3 separate regions of the Homo sapiens genome follow, and all the other regions are reported to be linked to region 1. Evidence: microRNA targets listed by miRTarBase, many of them from high-throughput screens and not tested one by one. Region 1 holds a microRNA gene; each other region holds the end of a gene's coding sequence.
The links. The annotated mature microRNA hsa-miR-6500-3p reads ACACUUGUUGGGAUGACCUGC and lies in region 1 at 4,050-4,070, opposite strand. An mRNA with a match to its seed (bases 2 to 7 or 8) in the 3' UTR can be bound and repressed. Matches are read on the target gene's strand: a 7mer-m8 pairs with bases 2 to 8, a 7mer-A1 pairs with bases 2 to 7 and ends in A, and an 8mer does both.

Region 2: the mRNA of RNF125 is a reported target of hsa-miR-6500-3p. Seed matches in the 3' UTR shown: 7mer-A1 at 3,421-3,427, 7mer-A1 at 2,459-2,465, 7mer-m8 at 2,418-2,424 and 7mer-A1 at 2,325-2,331.
Region 3: the mRNA of BAMBI is a reported target of hsa-miR-6500-3p. The part of its 3' UTR that is shown has no 7-base or 8-base seed match.

The regions. Positions count from the first base shown.
Region 1 is chr1:51,056,848-51,064,141 of GRCh38, reverse strand. It overlaps MIR6500 (microRNA 6500), which reads right to left and starts at 4,124; the gene lies at 4,039-4,124. It overlaps MIR4421 (microRNA 4421), which reads right to left and starts at 4,305; the gene lies at 4,237-4,305.
Region 2 is chr18:32,066,404-32,073,697 of GRCh38, reverse strand. It overlaps RNF125 (ring finger protein 125), which reads right to left. Exons shown (of 6, transcript NM_017831.4): 6 at 479-5,400. The coding sequence ends at 5,314. Among named protein-coding and RNA genes, the nearest start is that of RNF138, 22 kb to the left of the region's middle.
Region 3 is chr10:28,681,650-28,688,943 of GRCh38, reverse strand. BAMBI (BMP and activin membrane bound inhibitor) reads right to left here. Exons shown (of 3, transcript NM_012342.3): 3 at 6,012-6,961. The coding sequence ends at 6,543. Among named protein-coding and RNA genes, the nearest start is that of BAMBI, 7.8 kb to the right of the region's middle. RefSeq lists an enhancer at 4,161-5,069.

The DNA of each region.
Region 1 (7,294 bases):
CTGGGATAATAGGCATGAGCCACTGTGCCTGGCCACATATAAGTTTTGACACTCTAAAAACTTAACCAGTAGTAGCTTTTGACCTGATTTGACACTCTAAAAACCACTAATAGCTTTTGACCTGAACCCTTATCGATGACATAGTCAATTAACACATATTTTGTGTTACATGTATTATATACTGTATAGTAATTAAGCAAGCTAGAGAAAAGAAAATGTTATTAAGAAAATAATAAGGAAGATAAAAAGTATTCACTATTCATTAGGTGGAAGTGTATCGTTAGAAAGGTCTCTATCCTACTCACATTGGGTATGCTAAAGAGGTGGGGTTGGTCTTGTTGCAGGGATGGCAGAGGTGGAAGAAGATCTGTGTATAAGTGGATCTGCACAGCTCAAACCCATGTTGTTCAAGGCTTACATGCACACACACACACACACACATATATATACACACATGTATGTATGTATGTATGAATATTAGGCTGCTTATGGTGGTAATAACATTTGGGACAAACAAGAATGTGACTGAAGAACTTGAAATCTGGGGAATGAGATGTCCATATGGAGGCTTTGAAAAGCTTTGACATTTACCTGGAAATTCTGAAGGCTACTCACATACATAGGACTGTGGACATGCCTGAGCTATGGGCATGGTCAGAAAAGACTTGAGAAGGCCCTAAGCTCTTACCTCTGACTGACCTTGAGTCTGCACAAGGAGGAATTTACAGCTAAAGCAGAGATGTGAACTACCTGCCTGAGTGTTAAAGGTTTGCCACAATGTGCCCACAGGAACTCTTAGCAAAGCCTGGGAGACTTATGGAGACTTATTTGTTCTAGACATTTGAGGAAATTTCTGCAATTCTTAGCTGATGACTAAGCAAACTGAGCAGATACTTCAGTGACCACACTTGAAAAAGGATAGAGACTTTATAGAATTAGTCCAGGAAAGTTACTAAGAAACAGCAACAACAACAAACAAAACAAATAAACAACCAGCAATATTAATAAACCCTGGGATGGGAGAGAGTCTGATTTCCATAGTTGTTACATTATATTATGTAAAATGACTATTTTCAACAGGAAATTATGAGACTCAAAGTAGGGCCCATATATTGGGAAAAAAAAAGCAGTTAATAGAAACTGTCCCTCAGAAAGCCTTGATGCTAAACTTACAAGGCCAAGTTGTTAAATCAGCGATATTAAATGTTTGAAGAACTAAAGGAAACTATGTATAAAGAACCAAAGGAAAGTATGAAAATGATATAAAACTTAAGAGAGAATATCAATAAAGAGATAGACATTTAAATAATTTCTTTTTAAATAAAACAACCAAATAGAAATTCTAGAGTCAAAAAGTACTGAAACAAAAAAATTCACTAGAGGGTTTCAAGAGCATATTTGAAAAAGAATCAGTGAACCTGAAGATAAACCAATTGAGAAAATCTGGTCTGAGAAAGAGAAAGAAAAAAAGATTAACAAAGATGAAGAGAACCTTGCAGATCTATAGGATACCATCAAGCATGCCAATCTATGCATAATGGTAGTCTCGGAAGAGAGAAAAAGGAGCAAAAAATATGCTTGACAAAATAATGGCCAAAAACTGCCAGCGTTTGATGAAAAACATTAATCTATACATCAAAGAAACTCAACAGACTCCAAGTATAGTTGACCCTTGAACAACATGGGTTTGAGCTGTTCAGGTCCACTTATATGGAACTTTTACTCACCTCTGCCATCCCTGAGATGGCAAGACCAACCCCTCTTTTTCCTTCTCCTCTTTAGCCTACTCAATGTGAAAACAGAGGGGATGAATTCCTTTCTGATTACCCACTTAATGAATAGTAAATATATTTTCCTTATTATTTTCTTTTCTCTGGCTGGCTTAATGGTAAAAATACAGTATATGATACTTATAACATTAAAAAAAGTGTTAATCAGCTGTTTATGTTGTCAGTAACATTCTGGCCAATAGTAGACTATTGGTAGTTAAGTTTTTGGGAAGTCAAAAGTTGTATGTGGATTTTTTTTCTACCCTCTTCTCACAGGTATGTATATGTGGATGTTTGACTAGTGGGGTCGGCACCCCAACCCCTCATGTTGTTCAAGGTTATACTGTAGTATAAATGCAAAGAGATGCACACCTATACACAACATAACCAACTGGAAAACCAAGGGCACAGAGAGTATATTGAAAGCAGAAAGACAGAAGCAGCTCATCATCTCTGAGGTATTCTTGATAAGATTAACAGCCAAATTCTTTCCAGTAACTTTATGAATATAAACTATTGTTATGAATATAGACTATCAGAATGATTCCAGCTCCATATAAAAATATTTATGGACCATGACAAAGTGGAATTTATTCCATGAATACAGGCTCAGCATACATTATCATATATCATATTAATAGAATAATGGACAAAAGCCAAACAGTCATGTCATAGATATGAAAAAGCACTTGAGAAAATTCAACACACTTTAATGATTAAAAAAACAAACAAGAAACCTGGAATAGAAGGAAACTTCCTCAGCCTGATAAAGGGCATCTATGAAAACACACTGCTAATGTCACTTTGTGGTGAAAGGCTTGAAAAAATTATCCCATCTTAGTCTGTGTTACTATTAATATAAAGGCATACCTGAGGCTGGGTAATTCATGAAGAAAAGAGGTTCATTTGTCTCACGGTTCTGCAGGCTGCACAAGAATCATGGCATTGGCATCTGCTTCTAGTGAAGGCTCCAGGCTGATTCCACTTATGGCAGAAAGTGAAGAGGAGCTGGTATATGCATATCATATGGTGAGAGAGGAAGCAAGAGAGAGACTAGAGGAGGTACCAGGCTTTTTTCAACAACCAGTTCTTGTGGGAACTAAAAGTAAGAACTCACTCTCGTGAGAATGGTACAGAGCTATTCATGAAGGATCCACCCCCACAACCCAAACACTCCTACCAGGCCCCATCTTTAACACTGGGGATCAGATTTCAACATGAGACTTGGCAGGGCCAAACAAATCATATTCAAACCATAGTACCACCTAAGATCAGGAATAAGACAAGGACGTTCACTCTTACCATTTATATTCAGTGTTGTACCAAGGGCTGCATACCCATCAGTCAGAATCCTTGTGTCATGGCATCCTCCAGGTGTCACTTTTCCAGTTGGAAACCTCTGTGGCCAGTGGTGCCTTTGCCAGAGTTTTGCTCAAGCCTGCTGGGCTTGTTCCACCCACTCGGCCTGGCAGGCTGCACTCAGCTCATGCTACTGGCCTGGCTCCCACACCTTCAAAGAATGATCCAGGCATGGAGAGGAGAGGGGTGCACAAGTAAGCAAGCATGGGGTCTGGCTGCTGCACACAGCCAAGCATTGGCTGCTGTGGTGGGGTGGGCAGTTCCAGGTGCCACCACAGGTGCTGGCTCTGTTCAAGCCTGTGGCTGGATCAGATGCACTATAAGTGGCTTCTGCTCTGGGCACTCACATCTGGACAAGGGGAACATGGTGGCACTTGGAAGCTCCAAGACACTAGAAACCACAGAGCCCCAAAGAGGGTGTCACAGCCCTGGCTGGGGGAGCCTGTGCATCTGAGCTCCCTGAAGGGCTGCAGCTCTTCTCTCCTTCTCATTGCCTGCAGTGTGACGAGTGGGGTGGAGGCAGGTGTTTTAGCTCTGTTTGTGTTATAGCACTTTCAGTCCCACCATTCAACAGGTCCTGAATTTTTGTCCTGTGTCCAGGAAGAATGAGGTATGCAGAAAACTGGAGGGTGAGCAAGGCAGAAAGGAACTTTCTTGAGCAAAAGAGTGACAGAACAGCTCTTGGGAGACCTGGAGTTGGTAGCTCCTTTCCACAGGCAGGTCATCCCAACTAGTTCAGCCCTCAGTAGAGAGGAGCCCCAGATTGGGTAGCTCCATTTCACAGGCAGGTCATCCTGACAAGTGTCCAGCTCTCTGGGGAGAGGAGACCTGGAGTGGGTAGCTCCTTTCCATAGGCAGTTAGTCCTGACGAGTGCATCCCTCAGCAGAGAGGAGACCAGAGTGGGCAGCTCCTACCTGCAGGCAGGTCATCCCAACAAGTGTCCAGCTCTCAGAAGAAAGGACACCTGGAGTGGATAGCTCCTTTCTGCAGGCAGGTAGTCCTGACGAGTGCAGCCCTCAGCAGAGAAGAGACCCAGAGAAGGTAGCTCCTAGCTGCAGGCAGGTTGTCCAGATGAGTGTCCAGCTCTCAGGGGAGAGGAAACCCAGAGTAGGTAGCTCCTTTCCACAGACAGGTTGTCCCAACAAGTGTTCAACTCTCAGCAGAAAGGAGACCCAGAGTGAGTAGCTCTTTTCCACAGGCAGGTCATACTGACAAGTAGAGGAGACCTGAAGTGGGTAGCTCCTTCCTGCAGCTGGTAGTCCTGACATCTGTATGAGTCTAGCTAGGTAACATAGTTTTTATGGGCTCAGAAAGGAAGAAGTGTGTTCTGATTGGCCCATGGGTGGCCATGGGCGGGCCTGGAAAAAGCACCATAAGTTCTCACTCCAGGCCGCAGACTCCACCTGGAGCTGACAGCCCAGCCCCCAGGCTTCATGCCATCCATGGCTTGAAGGTTGCGTTTCACTGGGAACCTGCCCCTTTCTGCCCAGGAGCCTGTCTGCCTCCTGTCACCATCAACATGTTGTCCATGCCGCCCAGGCTGTTCATGCTGAGGTTTGCCTACAGGCCCACACTGAGCCACCCTGAGCAACCCCTTGGTCTCCCTCTTGTGCTCTTCAGTTCCCAAAGTCTGGATGGCCTGAGACAGCAGGGGGCTGGCATGTCAGCACTGCCCTGAGTGCTTGGGTACCCAGCTGGGTCACAACAGTGCCTGGGCTCTGCCACAACTTTGCTCTGCCCCAGAGTGGGGGCCAGGAGCAGGGAGAGGCCAGGCAGTGGGAGCAGGCACTTTCAAGCCTACGGGAACAAAGGGCTTCCGGGGCCCCTGAGACCTCAGGGATGCCTGGGTCTGTGGCTACAGCTGAGAAGCTGCAGCTGTGCCTGGGAGCATGTGGCTCCTGCTCCACTGACTTGTTAGGGGGTGGGGCTCCCACCTGTTCCCGGCACCCGTGGGCTCAGCAGAGTGTGCAGCCCCAGTTGTGCTTCCCCTGCTGAAGCCGGCATCTTCACAGTGGCTACTCCAGACAGGCCACTGCTGCCATCACTTGCACCAACCTGTAGGTGACAGTCTTCCTCCATGAAGCCAGTTCATATGCTCTAGAAGTTACTCCTCCATGAAATATGCAAAGAAACAGCCCAAGGCTACAAGAAATACGCACACACGAAATCAAAGAAACAGGACACCACCAAAGGAACACAATAATTTTCCAATAACCAACCCCAAAGAAATGGATATCTATAAATTGCCTTCCAAACAATTAGAAATAATTGTTTTTAAAGAAGTTCAGCATGCAATAGGAGAACACAGTTGGACAACTCAGTGAAAACAGAAAAAGAGTCTACGGCCATACCACCTCGAACATGTCTGATTTCATCTGAAAACAGAGAAAGAATACATGAACAATACAAGAAGTTCAACAGGAAGGTAGAACTTATAAAAAAGAACCAGGCTGGGAGTGGTGGCTCACACCTGTAATCCTAGCACTTTGGGAGGCCAAGGTAGGCGGATTGCCTGAGCTCAGGAGTTTGAGACCAGCCTGGGCAACACAGTGAAACCCCATATCTACTAAAATACAAAAAATTAGCTGGGCATGGTGGTGTGCACCTGTAATCCCAGCTACTCAGGAGACTGAGACAGGAGAATCACTTGAACCTGGGAGGCAGAGGTTGCAGTGAGCTGAGGTCATGCCACTGCACTCCAGCCTGGGTGACAGAATGAGACTCCAACTCAAAAAAAGAAAAAAAAAAAAAAAAGAAAAAGAAAGAAATTCTGGAACCAAAAAACCTAATGACTGATATTAAAAACACAATAGAGAACTTCAAAAATAGACTTTATTGAGCAGAAGAAAGAATTTGTGCCCTTGAAGACAGGTTATTTGAAATTATCCAGTCAGAGGAGAAAAAAGAATGAAAAAGAGTGAAGAAAATTTATAGGACTTATGGGACACCATCAAGCAAACCAATATGTGCATAATGAGAGTACTAGAAGAAGAAAAGCAAGAGAAAGAGGTAAAAAGCTTTTTTAAAGAAATAATGGGTTAGGTGCAGTGGCTCATGCCTGTAATCCCAGCACTTTGGGAGGTCGAGGCAGGTGGATCACCTGAGGTCAGGAGTTAAAGACCAGCTTGGCCAACATGGTGAAACCTTGTCTCTACTTAAACTACAAAAATTAGCCAGGTGTGGTGGCAGGTGCCTGTAATTCCAGCTACTCGGGAGGCTGAGGCAGGAGAATGACTTGAACTTGGGAGGCAGACGTTGCAATGAACTGAGATTGTGCCACTGTACTCCAGCCTGGGTGACAGAGCAAGACTACTTCTCAAAAAATTATAATAATAATAATGATAATAAAATAAAATAAAGAAGTAATGGCTGAAAACTTCTCAAATTTTGAGAGGGAAATGGATATCCAGATTCATGAAGCTTACAGGTTTTCAAAGAGGATCAATTCAAGACTATACCAAGGTACATTTTAATCAAATTGTCTAAAATAAAGGACACTGAAAGAATTTTAAAGCTGCAAGAGAAAAGTAATGCATCACATATAGGGAATCACCATAAGACTATCAGTGGCTTTCTCATCAGAAACCTTGCATGCCGAAGAGAATGGGATGATATATTGAAAGAACTGGAAAAAAAAAACTACTTACCGTGAATCTACATCTGGCAAGATTATCCTTTAAAAATGAAGGGGAGATGAATTCTTCCTTAGACAAACAAAAACAAAGGGAGTCTGTCACTACTAGCCCAGCCGTAAAAGAAATGTTTAAAAGAGTTATTTCTTCAAATTGAAATGAAAACACACTAAATAGTATAATGAAAACATATAAAAGCATAAATATTATGAGTAAAGGAAAATATATGGACAAATATAGTTAATATAAAACTATAATGGTGGGGCCTAACTTACTTTTAACCCTAATATAAAAATTAAAAGATAAAAATTTGTCAAAGGATACACAATATAAAAGGCAACAAACTGACTACAAGAACACAAAGTGTAGGGGTGGGGAGTAAAAATGTAAAACGGTTTTTGGTTTTGGTTTTTTTTAGAGACAAGGTCTTACTACATTGCACAGGCTGGTCTCAAACACCTCACTTCAAGCAATCCTCCTGTCTCAGCCTCCCAAAGCACTGGGATTACAGGTGTGAGCCACCATGCCTGGCC
Region 2 (7,294 bases), not on the chromosome of region 1:
TATGCTCATGACATATGGGTACGCATGACAGCTACAGCCATTCAAAACTTAGTATGGATTTAGCAGGGGGAAGAATCTATCTACATCTTACCTTTTAAATTTCAGTGAAGCCTCTTGCTAGCAGAACAAATAATAAATCCATAGTGCTCAGTATTATGTTGACCAAATCAGAGTTTCTAAGCCTAGGCACTATTGCCATTTTGCGCAGGATAATTCTTTGTTGCAAGGGGCTGTCTTGTGCACTGTAGAATGCTGAACAGCATCCCTGACCTGTATCTAGATCTCAGGCCACTAGCACACCCAAGCCCTGTTAGGACAACCCAAAATGTATCTAGACATTGCCAATGTCTGCTGGGAGACAAAATTACCCCCAGTTGAGAAGTACTGGCCTAAATGAATGTACACCTTTGTGATAGATGTTGCTCAATGATGAAAATTTAAAAAGCATTATTAAATTTGAGTAAAATAGTAATCAAGATTAATGTTTAAGAATAGACACAGTAGATATTTTAATAAAAACAATGGTCCTGCCATTTTTTATTTATCATAGCAATACATACTTACAGAAGAAAAAGAATCACACATTTTAAATTCTGATCATTACACTATTTTTTTGTAGTTGAATAATAAAAGAATGAATCTCTTAGTGACTTTTTAAAATACCTTCAATGTTGGAAAAATGCAAATTATGATATGATAAACATTCAATAACTGGAGTAAGTTCACTTCCAAATGAAAGACACTTGGCACCCAGTAACAGTAATGAAATTAAACATCACTGAAGACAGTAAGGAGGTCTGCCTGGAGGTCTCTAAGGAGGTCTGCCTGGAACCATATCTTTAGTGTAGATTCACAATCAATCCAATCTTTCAACCTACATTTTAATAATTTAGCTTTAGAAGAATAACATGTGAATCAGTTTTTCTCTAATAAGGCCCTGAAAAAGTTGTATCCTGAAGCACTATAAAGAGAGTGAAACTTTTTTGTTGGTAATCAACAGCTTCAAATATTGGTTTTTATCAACGAATTATAAATACCTTTTTATAAAAGGCCAAAGGCACAGTAAAACAATGAGTATTTGTACTTTACCATTTTAGAGCTCAAAATAATTCAGAACACAAAATAATTCAGGCGACCAGCACCTAATCTGTCCTGTAGGTGGCAAAATTATCATAAAAGGAATCCAGGCACAGGAGTCAGAATTGCTGCACTGAGGTTAATAGTGACAGATGACTTAAAGCTTTATCCGACATACAATTTTTAACTTTTTCAAGTTTTATAGATTCAAAGTGCCTTTTGTATCGCTCTGAATTAACAAAAGTTTGTCTGCATGGTCAACACCAATGCTTAAAAATATGTTTTCATTTCTCAGGCTCTGGACTTTCAGTCTGATGATCATTTCTTTTTATGATTATTCCTGAAAAATTCCTCTCCTTTTTCTCGTTTCCCAACAGATTTTGCTTTATTTTTATTTATATTTAATTATTTATGTTTTTGGAGACAGGGTCTTGCTCTGTTGCCCAGGCTGGAGGGCAGTAGCATGATCATAGCTCACTGCAGTGTTGACCTCCTAGGCTCAAGTGATCCTCCAACCTCAGCCTCCTTAGTAGCTGAAACTAAAGGTGTGCATCATGCCCAGCTTTTTGTTTGTTTGTTTGTTTGTTTTTGTTTTTGTTTAAATAGAAAGAGTCTCACTATATTGCCCAGGTTGGTCTTGAACTCCTGGGCTCATGAGACCCTCCACCTCAGCCTCCCAAAGTGCTGGGATTATAGGTGTGAGCCACTGTAACCAGCCAGATTTTGCTTTATTGTATGATCCATCTAAATTGAAGAAAGAGAGGTTGTGGAACTAAAAATCAGTTGTTACTTTTTAGCAGCTGTGAAAAGCAAACTTAAAATCAATATCTAAAAGGGAGGATATGAGGCTCACTAGATTTCATTCAGCTTTACATTTTCCCAATTATTTGTACTGGATAAAAGAACTGTAGCAAGACCTTTAAGGAGTTACAATAACTTATAGAAAATTTTGGGTACCATGGTTATGACTATGCTTATATGTAAGGAACAAAGAAGTTTATAAATGATTACAATTAAAAAGCTAACTCTAGTCAAGTAACGTTTTATCCTCAGGAGTTGATATTACTTATTTTCATGGCTTCTTTGCATCCTTACAAGATGGAGATACTAATCTATGCCCTGGATTCATAATTAAAGAGTCAGATATGAGAAACAGTCAGAGCCATCAAATAAAAACTGGGGGCAATTGCCTGGCGCGGTGGCACACACCTGTAATCCCAGTACTTTAGGAGGCCAACACAGGTGGATCACTTGAGGTCAGGAGTTCAAAACCAGCCTGGCCAACATGGCAAAACCCATCTCTACTAAAAATACAACAATTAGCCGGGTGTGGTGGTGCCCACTTGTAATCCCAGCTACTCGAGAGGCTGAGGCAGGAGAATCACTTGAACCCGGGAGGCGGAGGTTGCAGTGAGCCAAGATCACACCACTGCACTCCAGCCTGGGCAACAGAGCAAGATTCCTCCTCAAAACAAAACAAAACAAAACTGGGGGCAAGTGTTAAATATATAGTTGAAGAACTAAGAATAAATGGGGGATAAAAGGAAGAAAGTACAGTATGCTATACCAGTATGTTCTGAAAATGTTGACATAGTATAACTATTTTAAAAATTGGGATGTCGGGCGCAGTGGCTCACACCTGTAATCCCAGCACTTTGGGAGGCCGAGGCAGGCGGATCACCTGAGGTCGAGAGTTTGAGGCCAGCCTGACCAATGTGGAGAAATCCTGACTCTACTAAAAATACAAAATTAGCAGGGCGTGGTGGCGCATGCCTATAATCCCAGCTACTCGGGAAGCTGAGGCAGGAGAATTGCTTGAATCCAGGAGGCAGAGGTTGCAGTGAGCCGAGATCGTGCCATTGCACTCCAGCCTGGGCAACAAGAGCGCGAGACTCCATCTCAAAAAAAAAAAAAAATTGGGAAAGAATGAGAAAAGCAAATGAAAACTTTTTAATTGTTTCAATTGCCATATTATTTGTGGTTGTATTTCTATTGTTATTCTGAGACAGCTGTAAGTGTAAGATAAATAAAAGAAATGAGTAATTGTGGGATGTTCTAATTCTATCGTGCCCTGTGTTCTTGAAAACCAGGACTTTCAGTACAGAAGGAGAGGTACAGTTGTAACAGAAAGGTTAGATAAAAACCCTGTAGGCCGGGCACAGTGGCTCACGCCTATAATCCCAGCACTTTGGAAGGCTGAGGTGGGCGGATCACAAGGTAAGGAGTTTGAGACCAGCCTGGCTATTATGGTGAAACCCTGTCTCTACTAAAAATACAAAAATTAGCTGGGCATGGTGGCTCATGCCTGTAATCCCAGCATTTTGGGAGGCCAAGGCTGGTGGATCACTTGAGTTCAGGAGTTCAAGACCAGCCTGACCATTATGGTGAAACCCCTCTACTAAAAATACAAAAATTAGCCGGGCATGGTGGCGTGCACCTGTAGTCCCAGCTACTTGGGAGGCTGAAACAGGAGAACTGCTTGAACCCGGGAGATGGAGGTTGCAGTGAGTCGAGATCGTGCCACTGTACTCCAGCCTGGGCAACAGAGTGCAACTCTGAAAAAAAGAGAAAGAAAAGGAAAGAGAGAGAGAGAGAGAGAGAGAAGAAGGAGGAAGGAAAGAAAGACACCGTGATTTACAGTCTTGCCAAAGGACTGAACCTAAGTCTTCTCAAATTCAATGTGCCTGAACCTGCACTGTGTGCTAATATCGAGAGGACAGGGCAATGTGCTGAACCGTGCCATGAGTGTGCAATCAGCAAAATACAAAGTATGGGAAACTCTATAGGTCCTAGGATCAGGTTCTTCACCAGGTAAATTTTAAGGAACTGGAAAGAAGGAGGAACTTCTAGATTAAAAAAGAGATGTAAAATAAAATATACATTTAATAACAACTTTAAATTGATAATATTAAAATATAGATATATGCATTTAGGTGTGGCAGCAGTAATCAAATGCAACAAAGTGATTACCATTTAAATCAGTCTAGCAGTTACTTTTGTGGGGTTGTAATTGTGACAGGACACAAAAAGGACACGTGGGGTGACTGGCTGAGTCCTAAAAGAGTATTTCCTTATAATAAGGCATTCAGCTATAAATTTTGTGTCTGGTTTTCAGTACTTTTATTTCATAATTTTTAAAATGTTACAATCAAAAAAGATATCAAAGCCCTTAGGGTTTTCTACTAAAAAGTCTGGATGTGAATACTTATACTGTAAGTATCATCTGATGGTTTTTAAGAAATTGCTTATATTATAGAAATATTTCTAAATAAGCTATAAATATTTGAAAAATATTGAATTCTTATGTATGCAGTTATAAAAAGTCAAAGAATTAAGTATACTTTTCTAACACAAAATTTGTTTTGTTACAGTATTATGTAAGACAATTTGGTTAAATGGATTTTTTTTTTTTTTTTTTTTGAGATGGAGTCTAGCTCTGTTACCCAGGCTGGAGTGTACTGGTGCGATCTCAGCTCACTGTAACCTCTGCCTCCCGGGTTCAAGTGATTCTTCTGCCTCAGCCTCCCAAGTAGCTGGTATTACAGATGCCCGCCAACACGTCCAGCTAATTTTTGTATTTTTAGTAGAGACGGAGTTTCACAGAGACCAGTGTTGGCCAGGCTGGTCTCGAACTCCTGACCTTGTGATCCGCCTGCTTCAGCCTCCCAAAGTGCTGGGATTACAAGCGTAAGCCACCGCGTCCGGCCTAAATGGACTTTCTTGACTTCCAAAATTTTCCTTTCCAACTCCCATACAAGATTATTAACGTTAACCTATTAGAGATTAGAACAAGAGCATTGGAGCAGATTTCTTATTTCTTTGAATGTCTGCACTTTGTTTCACTCTCCATATTTTTTTACACAGAACAAAGATTAGTTATCGTGCCTAACCATGATGGTAGTTATTGATATGTAGCATTATACACAGAGTATTATCTAATTTGCAAACCGAGATCCTCCACCTACTTGCCTACCACCTGTCTTTTCCATGTAACAATGACTGATGTAGATAATTTTTTTTGTTGTTAGATGTGTAAGAATCTCAAGGATGTAAAACAGATTTAAACCATTAAAATTAAAGCAGTTTTTAAATGCACTATAACAATAAACATGGACAAACACATAACTGTGTTGTACATTTTTGCCCATCAATCATTGACAACTTCCCTCCCATTTGTTCAAGCAGCATCTTAAATGGTGCAATTCAGTGGTCCCTTTTCCCTTCGTTTTAATAAAATTATGTGGTGTTCGAGTGATTCACATATTCAAGAAGTGACCGGTCTAAGACTCTTCGGATAAGAGCTTCCTCAATTATATTAAAATCCTACAATAAAGAAAAATAATTAGAAATATTCAGAGTCAATAGTATTTCAGAAACTAGAGGATGAGGGTCAATGCAACACCCTCATTTTGTAGGGAACTAAAGTTACGAGACTTGTCCAAGGTTCCACAAAGCCTGTCATAGAACCCAGGACTTTTGCTTTGGGGCTAATGAATTTTCTACTTCACTTTGTTGTCTATCGATTAACTAGTTACTGTCATAATAAACAGTCTTGATTTGAAATTTGAAGTTTTTATCTGATATAATGAGAAGTTTTTAGTCACCATTACAAATCCTGGTCAGAGTGCTATGTTCCACATAAACCTGTAAAATGGAGCAAAGTTCAGGCTCCCCCACAGGCTTCACCAATGCCAGCAGTACCACTGAATGGCTACTTCTGAAGAAAATGTTAAAAACAAAACTTTCTCCTTGCCTCCTATGTGTCAAAGTGGAATTCAAAATTCTATGTCAGCACATTCTATAAGTAAAACAAAAACCATTAAGAACCCTATCCTCTGCAATCCCTCTCCTCTTCCGCAATAACAAAAGGTGAAATCTCTATTCAAAGTCCATTCTGCAATATAAAAACAAAACAAAAAAACCCCCACAAAATCCAAAGGAAAGTCATAAAGTACAGCAGAACACAAGGTTTGGTCTTGATACTGGCTTGTTCTTAGATAATTCAGTTAACCTTTGAGCTTCAGATATTTCAGTTAAATGAAGATAAAAATACAGTATTCACTTCACGGAAGTTGCTACAAGGAATAAAATGTGATATATACATATAGTGCTTAGCTTAGTATATAGTAGCTCAGGAAGCAAAAAATCAAAACAAAGAACACTACTTCCAGTTCACTTCCCTACCCAAGAATATGGCTGTGAGTGGCTGGAAAGTATTCCTATCAAAGTGGCTTCATCCTGCCTAGCTCTGGATCATGCTTTGTCTGAAAGATCTTGAGAACAGACTGAGCATGATTAGACAGAACAGCCATAGAATCGACCTGGCTTTTAGAACACCTCATAGAGCTAAGGTAAAGAGAAACCTCTTGAGACGGAGTCTCGCTCTGTCACCCAGGCTGGAGTGCAGTGGCGCGATCACGGTTCACTGCAAGCTCCGCCTCCCGAGTTCACACCATTCTCCTGCCTCAGCCTCCAGAGTAGCTGGGACCACAGGCGCCCGCCACCATGCCCAACTAATTTTCTTGTATTTTTAGTAGAGACAGGGTTTCACCGTGTTAGCCAGGATGGTCACGATCTCCTGACCTCATGATCCGCCCATCTCGGCCTCCCAAAGTGCTGGGATTACAGGTGTGAGCCACCACGCCCGGCCAAGAGAAACCTCTTTGTATTACCAGAGAGAACACATAGACCAGAACCAAGTTCTGTTGAGGCCTGTGTGCCATATGGGCCACAAAAGACATGCTTAGAGATATGGAGCTGAGAATTTAAAGCCTCTGTCATGTTCCTTGTTCAGTTCCTCAAGTGGTCCTAACAATTCTACTCCCATCCCATCTCCAATTTGCCTAACATCTGCACCTGAACTGTGCAAAGCACTTTATATACATTATCTCATTTAATCCTAAGAAGAATTTTGGGAGTAGGTGCTTTTAATCTCTTCCCTTAACCAGTGCACAAACTGAGTTTCCGAGGTTAAATACCTTCTGCAAGGTCGCACATATATGACAGAGCTATTGCTTAAAACTAGTTTAGAACCTGAGCTCCTTGTATCCAACCTGGATAATAATAATTGGCAGATAGAAAGCATGGAGAAAATTCTCAAATGACAATCTTCAATCGTTATTAAATTTTATCTTGAAATTGCATTTCATTTTTTTTTTTTTTGAGACAAAGTCTCACTCTGTTGCCCAGGCTGGAGTGGAGTGGTGTGATCTCAGCT
Region 3 (7,294 bases), not on the chromosome of region 1:
GAGGCAGGATAATCGTTCAAACCTGGGAGGCAGAGGTTGCAGTGAGCCGAGATCGCACCATTGCACTCCAGCATGGGCAACAAGAGCGAAACTCCGTCTCAAAAAAAAAAAAAAAAAAAAGAAAAATATAAAAGTGTGAATTATAAAACTGCAATGGATGCACAAGAGCTATTTGGATTTTGAAGTTAAAGGTAAACTTTTCATGAAGACGCTAAGTGTTTGTGAAGGGAAGGGAATTTATAACTTGGTGTGTCCTTGAATGAAAGAGGCAGGGAGCTATTTGTTGCTTTTATTACAGCTTCTGGGCAGAGGTTCATTTCCATGAGAAGAAAAGAGAATTTGCCAAAGTTGCCCTGGTATAGCAGGGCCTGTCAAGCCATTGAGGATGAAATACTAAATCAGGTAGCGTATTCCAGGTTCTCAACATTTTTGATCAACAAAACTCTCAGTGGCTTGTTCTTAACTCCTTGGAGAGACAATGGTGGAAATTTTGGATTATCTTTAAATACTAAAATGAAAGTACAACTCTTAGTTCAAAGGAGAATAGTGATACACTTCTGGGTGAGAATTAGTCCTTAAATGAGCTTAGAGCCTGCACCAAATATAAAAGGTAGACTCAGATATTTGACCTTAGCAATGTTTCGTTAATGTTCAGGCCCATTGGAATTTTTTCTCAACTTCCTTCACTAGCAATTTGTTTTCCTTTAGGCTCTCCAGACAAAAATTATAAATCTGTAAAGCAATCAGTTAGGATAGAGAAATGAAAGAGAAAGACAACATTTATTTACTAAAAACCAGAAACAGGTGCCTGAAAACAAAAGGTCTTAATCTGTCCTTCATCTAATTCTCTCCTTTGGATTTTGGAAATGTACAAAGGTTATTGATCACAGCTCCTGCCCACGGGGAGTTCACAGTTTAATCCCCAAATCCAGGTGAGAAAGGCCCTCATTTACCAAGGCAACTGTGAATTAAAGCTATGGTATCAAAACCACATCCACTAAATTTAGGGGGAAAAAAACACTCCACCGTGAACTTGTAACACTTAAAAAGTAAGAAACTTGCTTTGAGAAGTGTGGTGTTTTTCCACTGTCCTCATCGGTTCCCTAGGGAAATTCCAAGGGGAAGAAACCGGGGATAAAGAGCTTTTTGTATTTCTCTTGGTTTTAACTGCTAAAACAATTTTTGTTCCATTAGGTTTGTAATGTGAGATCTTTCAGAGTGAATTGACACAACAGCCTCTGAGTTTATTAATTCATCACAACTTAGTCTTCATGTGTCTAAAAACAAATTGCTGACTTCTTGCAAGTTCCAAATGTACTTATGCAATGCCTTGAAAATTGTTAAATGTAAAGTTATTCCAGGATTACGAAGTCTATTCAATTAGCATGGCATACACACACACACACACACACACACACAGCATGCATAGTTTTCAGCTGATCTTTCCTGAGTTCTATTCAGATTTAGTCCAACATCAATCTAATCTGCAAGATACAGGGAGCTAAACACCATTTGAAATTGCCCCTGAGAGGTCAGCGGGCCATTAGCTCCTAGATAGAATGAATTTCCTAAAAGTCTTGAGGAATGACAAATGCCTTGAGATATTATCTCACTGCTTACCCAAGTTATCTCCCCAGATTGCTTATCAATGCCTTTCCTGTTACCCTTTTCATATTCAAAGAATGGGAAAAGTTTGCAGAAGTTTGGCTGATAGGTCTTCCCTAGCAATAAATACTCTGAAATTCTAAAAAAGCACATCCCTTGGAAAATTGCTGCCTTGCTGGAAGAAGTAAATCCCCAACTGGTTAATCTCAGCTCTGCCACCTTCCTGATTCTATCCTCAAATTCCTGGAATGGCAGACAAATGAATTACACCACCACGCTGCAAAACAGTGCAGTGTTAGCAGATTAACAAGGACATGTTCAGAGTGTAAAATGTACTCCAAATAAAGAGTTGCCAAAATTTGAGAGTTGAATTTCGTCATTCTATGGGATCTCTAATTCCCCAAAAAAATCAATGATCTGCTTTTTTTGAGGCAGCAGATAGAGTCATATTGACAGGATGAATTGGGTAGAGGGAAGGGGAGTCAGTTGGGATCTGGAGCAGTCAATTTTTCTATTATAAATGTTGGTATCTGGAGCATTTAATTTTTCTATTATAAATGTTGGTATCTGGAGCATTTAATTTTTCTATTATAACTGTGACCCACAGAGTAACTAAATTAATTTCATCCAGGGTAATTAAATGATTTTTAACTCACTCCTCCACTTCCAAATTCACAAAGTTCTAAAAACTAGTTCTAGAAGTATTTGTATTTTGTTGGGAGCACCCGTGGGGCAGGCTGTAATCGATTGTGGCATTGAGAATCAATTGTTGAGAATGAACCAATCAGACATAAGCCACGCAAACAATATGGACACATTATCTGCTACCTATCAAATCCATTGATTTTCTCAATGGTTTGACCATTCGGAGCAGCTGAAACTCCAAGGGAACTTCATTCTATCAAATACTAGAAACTCAAGTAAGTTTATATGATTAAAACATTCTCATCAGTAGCCATCTGTATTATTCCAGAAGGAAACAATTACAAATGAACCTATTTAATAGGCATGAGAGGCCAAAAATAATAAATTGAAAATGAATATTTAAAATGCCATATCCAGTCTGCAGGTGACTGGCAAGTCTCAAGTATGCAAAGATCTTAAATATTAAAAAGCAATATTAATGTACGGTACAAATAATGGGCACAAGTTCTCAGATTTTAAGGAATATTATGTGGGCACAGTTTATGCAAGAATGTTGTGTATATGAATGAAAATAGCTACAATGTCTCTTCACAATAATCCTACAAGGTGTTACTACGGCCCCCATTCCACAGGCAACCACAGGCAACAAAAGTGAATATTCAAAGAGCTTACATAATTTGCCGAAGTTCGCACAGCTGTGGAGGTTTAAAGACATTTGAGCTGAGAGGCAGAGAAGAGGACCAATTAGAGGCTGTAAGGGAAAAAAAAAGCTATCCCGGCCCCAAAAGAGCCAGTTCCCTAGTCATGATACTAGATGCCACTGCTTTCAAGCTTTTAGCCTATAATCAACCCATATTGAAACCAGATTTATGAGCTCTTCAGAGGAAAGCTTTGTGATTTTCTAAAGCAGACATGTTTGGTATTTTATAAGGTCAAACCCCCTACGGTGTAGTGTTTTTAATAAAATCAGTTCAGCAGAAATTAGAGACACACCAGTCAATTTCTAGGAAGCCTCTAAGCCATTCAAAATAAAAGGAAAAAAAAATAACATAAAAGACATAACCATGCACAGATCAATTTTTTCAACAGTGGTAGAATGTAAGGAGTTGTAGATAGAAAATCATCTTGGCAAATTTGGTCCCATGTCTCTAGTTTGGGCAAATTTCCACTCAGAAAGGAAAATTCCTTTTGGGGGGAGTTCTATGACAATATTAAGCAAGGGTTGTTCCTGGTTAGCCTGGCCTTGTGACACCTCAGAGTAACAGTAAACATCTCTAAGACGGAAAAACAAATAAACCAGTCACCACCACTTCTGACATCACTGAATCAGGTAGACCCTGGACCTTATCTTAGTCCTTAATCTCTGGCTCCTGGCAACTTCTGCACTCTCACAGGGAAGCAAAAGTAAAATCTATATGTAGTTCTTAGTTACATCCAAAGTTGAGGTGCCTGCAGTATTTTCATAAGAAGGCGGATCTGACTTTCAGATTGGTGGTGAGGACACGTGTAAAAACTAAATGAATATCAAGAGAGAGGATTTTTTTAGGAAAAGAGGCAGGGCTGGCCTATTATGTGGCTAGAAGCGGAGCCCCAGAAAACTGAGAGGCCATGGGCACAGTGCCACCTCCCCACAGTACAGGGAGCTGTAAATAGCCTCGTGAATATACAATAGGAAGAACAAAGGCCCAAGATCAAGTGGAGAGGCTGCATGCATCCTCCATGAAGTTTGTGGTAACACCAGTCCAGACATAGGCCTCTCTGGGAGGAAGGGGTTCACTGATTTCAAAGTGTTTCAAAGCACATGACTTTAAATCCTTCATTGTTTTATTTCCTAAAGAATTGCAGAGTTCCTGGTTAACCTGTACTTGGAAAAAATGAGGTGAACCGGCCCTCATCAGGGCAAGCAGAGAAAAGAAACTCTGACTACGTAACAGATATAAAAACTGGCCACTTGAAGAATTGCTGAGCTTGCATAATGTCGTACATGAAATGAGAATGTACAAGGAGCAAGAAGTCCTTTCATCTCTAAACTACAATCTACTATAATGTGATCAAGAGCCAGAGTGGGGTTGGGCAGAGTGGCTCACACCTTAATCCCAGCACTTTAGGAGGCTGAGGCAGGAGGATCACTTGAGGTCAGGAGTTTGGGACCAGCCTGGCCAACATGGTGAAAACCCTGTCTCTACTAAAAATACAGAAATTAGCCAGGCATGGTGGTGGGTGGCTGTAATCCCAGCTGCTTCAGAGGCTGAGGCAGGAGAATCGCTTGAACCCGCGGCGGGGCAGGGGGCAGGGTGGTGTGCACCACGTGTGGTGTGTGGCGAGTGGGGTGGAGGTTGTAGTGATACATATGGCGCCACCGGACTCCAGCCCGGGCGACAGAGTGAGACTCAAAGAGCCAGAGGTGGAGGTGAGGGTGGAAATTTCACCAACAGACAACTTTGATCAATTCCCTTGACAGGTTTGAAGGGTTGGGTTCAACAATTCTTTGGCTTCCTCAAAAACTGACATACATAAAGCTTAACATCTTTTATAAAATATAAGGCATGCATGCAAGAGCTGCTCATCTTAAAAGGGACAGTACGAATGCTATCATTTATTAATATGTGTTTATTCCACAGCTTAGTTTTTTGGGGCAGGTGGTCTATTAATATTAATAAAAGAAAACCCCATACTCGAATATGCAGGCTGTAATTTTTTTTTTTTGAGATGGAGTCTCCCTCTGTTGCCCAGGCTGGAGTGCAGTGGCACAATCTCAGCTTACAACCTCTGCCTCCTGGGTTCAAGCAATTCTCCTGCCTCAGCCTCCCGAGTAGCTGGGACTACAGATGCACGCCACCACGCCCAGCTAATTTTTGCATTTTTAGTAGAGACAGGGTTTCACTATGTTGGCCAGGCTGGTCTTGAACTCCTTACCTTGTGATCCACCTGCCTCGGCCTCCCAAAGTGCTAGGATTACAGGTGTGAGCCACCGCGCCCGGCCTACGGGTTAACTTTTAAGCAAAAATTTCACATATACAAAGGAATTCAGAAGATACCCTCCATGGCATAATATTCTCACATTTAAAATAAGAAAGATCCACTGGGGGCACGGGAAGTACACAAATAAAGCATACGTTTAAATTCAGGATGGGCAATGTTATCAGGACAAAAAGTCTTATAAGAGGAAACATTGTTTCCTAGCTGTATTAGTTACTGGCTAAAGCCAATGTTCTATTTGGTTACATAAAGGATCATTTGGGAGGATGAAACCTAGTAGCAGTTATTTAAATCAATTGGTGTATCGTGTTCACTACAGAAAAGCTTTCTAAGTATTAAAAAAAAAAAAAGCATCACACTGTTGAAGCACAAGGTTTAAAATTAAGTGTGTTGTACAGTAAGGTTTGGCTAATTGGGGAGCCAAAATACTTAATTTGGCTTAGGACAAAATAAACTGGCCAATTAATCAACAGTAAAAGGAGACAGTGACTGACTTGAACAAAAAAACAGTTGTTTAGTTGGTTTTTTTTTCTTTTTTGGGTGGAGGTATACACATTGGAAAAGGTATTCCGGAACACCTGGATCAAAATGACCTTTGCTAGGTCAACTCCAGAAATTGATCAATCATATCTGACCTGGTACACATAAATTCCAGATCTCCTTCTTAGATGAAAGCTAAAACCAGAGTTATCCTATAGCCAGAATGTGGGTAAGACACTAAAAGATGGTCAGTATACATTTAGAAACTCCACACTGTAAGAAAATTACACAGGCACATGGAAGAATAAGCAAGATCTTGGTCTTGTTTAAAAAAGAAAAGAGAAAAAAAAAAACCAAGCCACATCCTAGAGTTGAGAACAAATTATTAACAGCAAATGGCCATTTGTATAATTAACATGTACTGTCTCACGTTTCCCAGTTAAATTTATGAAAGACACTATTAAATTTCAGACAAAATATATATATTTCTTTTAAATCTTTACAATAAATCAAGATGTAGAAGCTTACATAGGGCACATTTTTGTTTATTTAGGTACTCAATTCCAGCTCCCTTGGATGCAAATAACCCTGGTGACAGTGTGTACAAAGTCTTCTCTTTGCTTTTTATAATTTTAAAAGCAAATAACACATTTAACTGTATTTAAGTCTGTGCAAATAATCCTTCAGAAGAAATATCCAAGATTCTGTTTGCAGAGGTCATTTTGTCTCTCAAAGATGATTAAATGAGTTTGTCTTCAGATAAAGTGCTCCTGTCCAGCAGAACTCAAAAGGCCTTCAAGCTGTTCAGTAAGTGTAGTTCAGATAAGACTCCGTCATACGAATTCCAGCTTCCCGTGCCCACTGTACATGCCCCAGTGAACAAGCGAGAGGATCTTATCGTTGCTGAGGTCTGCTTGTCTCATTTTATCACAGGTCAGACAGCAGTTCTCGTGCCCACTGACCGGCACCATGCATTCCAAGTCTAACTTTGCAACCTGCCCCTTTTTGGAATGGTGTCCGTGAAAGCTGTAGTGCAAACGGGAGAGCATCTGTTGCCGCTGATCCTGCAGCCTCTTATTTTCACTTCGAAGCATCCTCAGGGCCAACATAATAAGCAACACTAAAATCAGCCCTCCAGCAATGGGCACGGCAATGACCGCTGCCCGGAACCACAACTCTTTGGAAGAAGTCAGCTCCTGCACCTTGGTGATAAGGTTTCTGCTACCATCATGCTGATACCTGTTTCCTTGTCCTAAAGGAGTACAAAGAAAATGATCAAACTCCATGCTAACTCCTCCTAGGGATATTCATAATCATCAATTCATTTTAACCAAGAATTCCATTAAAAAGAAGCTTACAATTAAATCAACGATATTTAGAAAACATTGCAAAACTATCTGAAGAAGCTTACAAACGCATTTGTTTACAGACTGTCATTACTGAGATGTAATGGCCTTTTAATGTCTTCAAAATGTTGAAAAAACAGGCAAAACCTATTATGTAGACAGACATCTAATGCTCAGACATAAAAGCCACTCAATCAAGATGCATCTTTGCATCCAGCCAGGCTTCTCCCTCTGGTGTC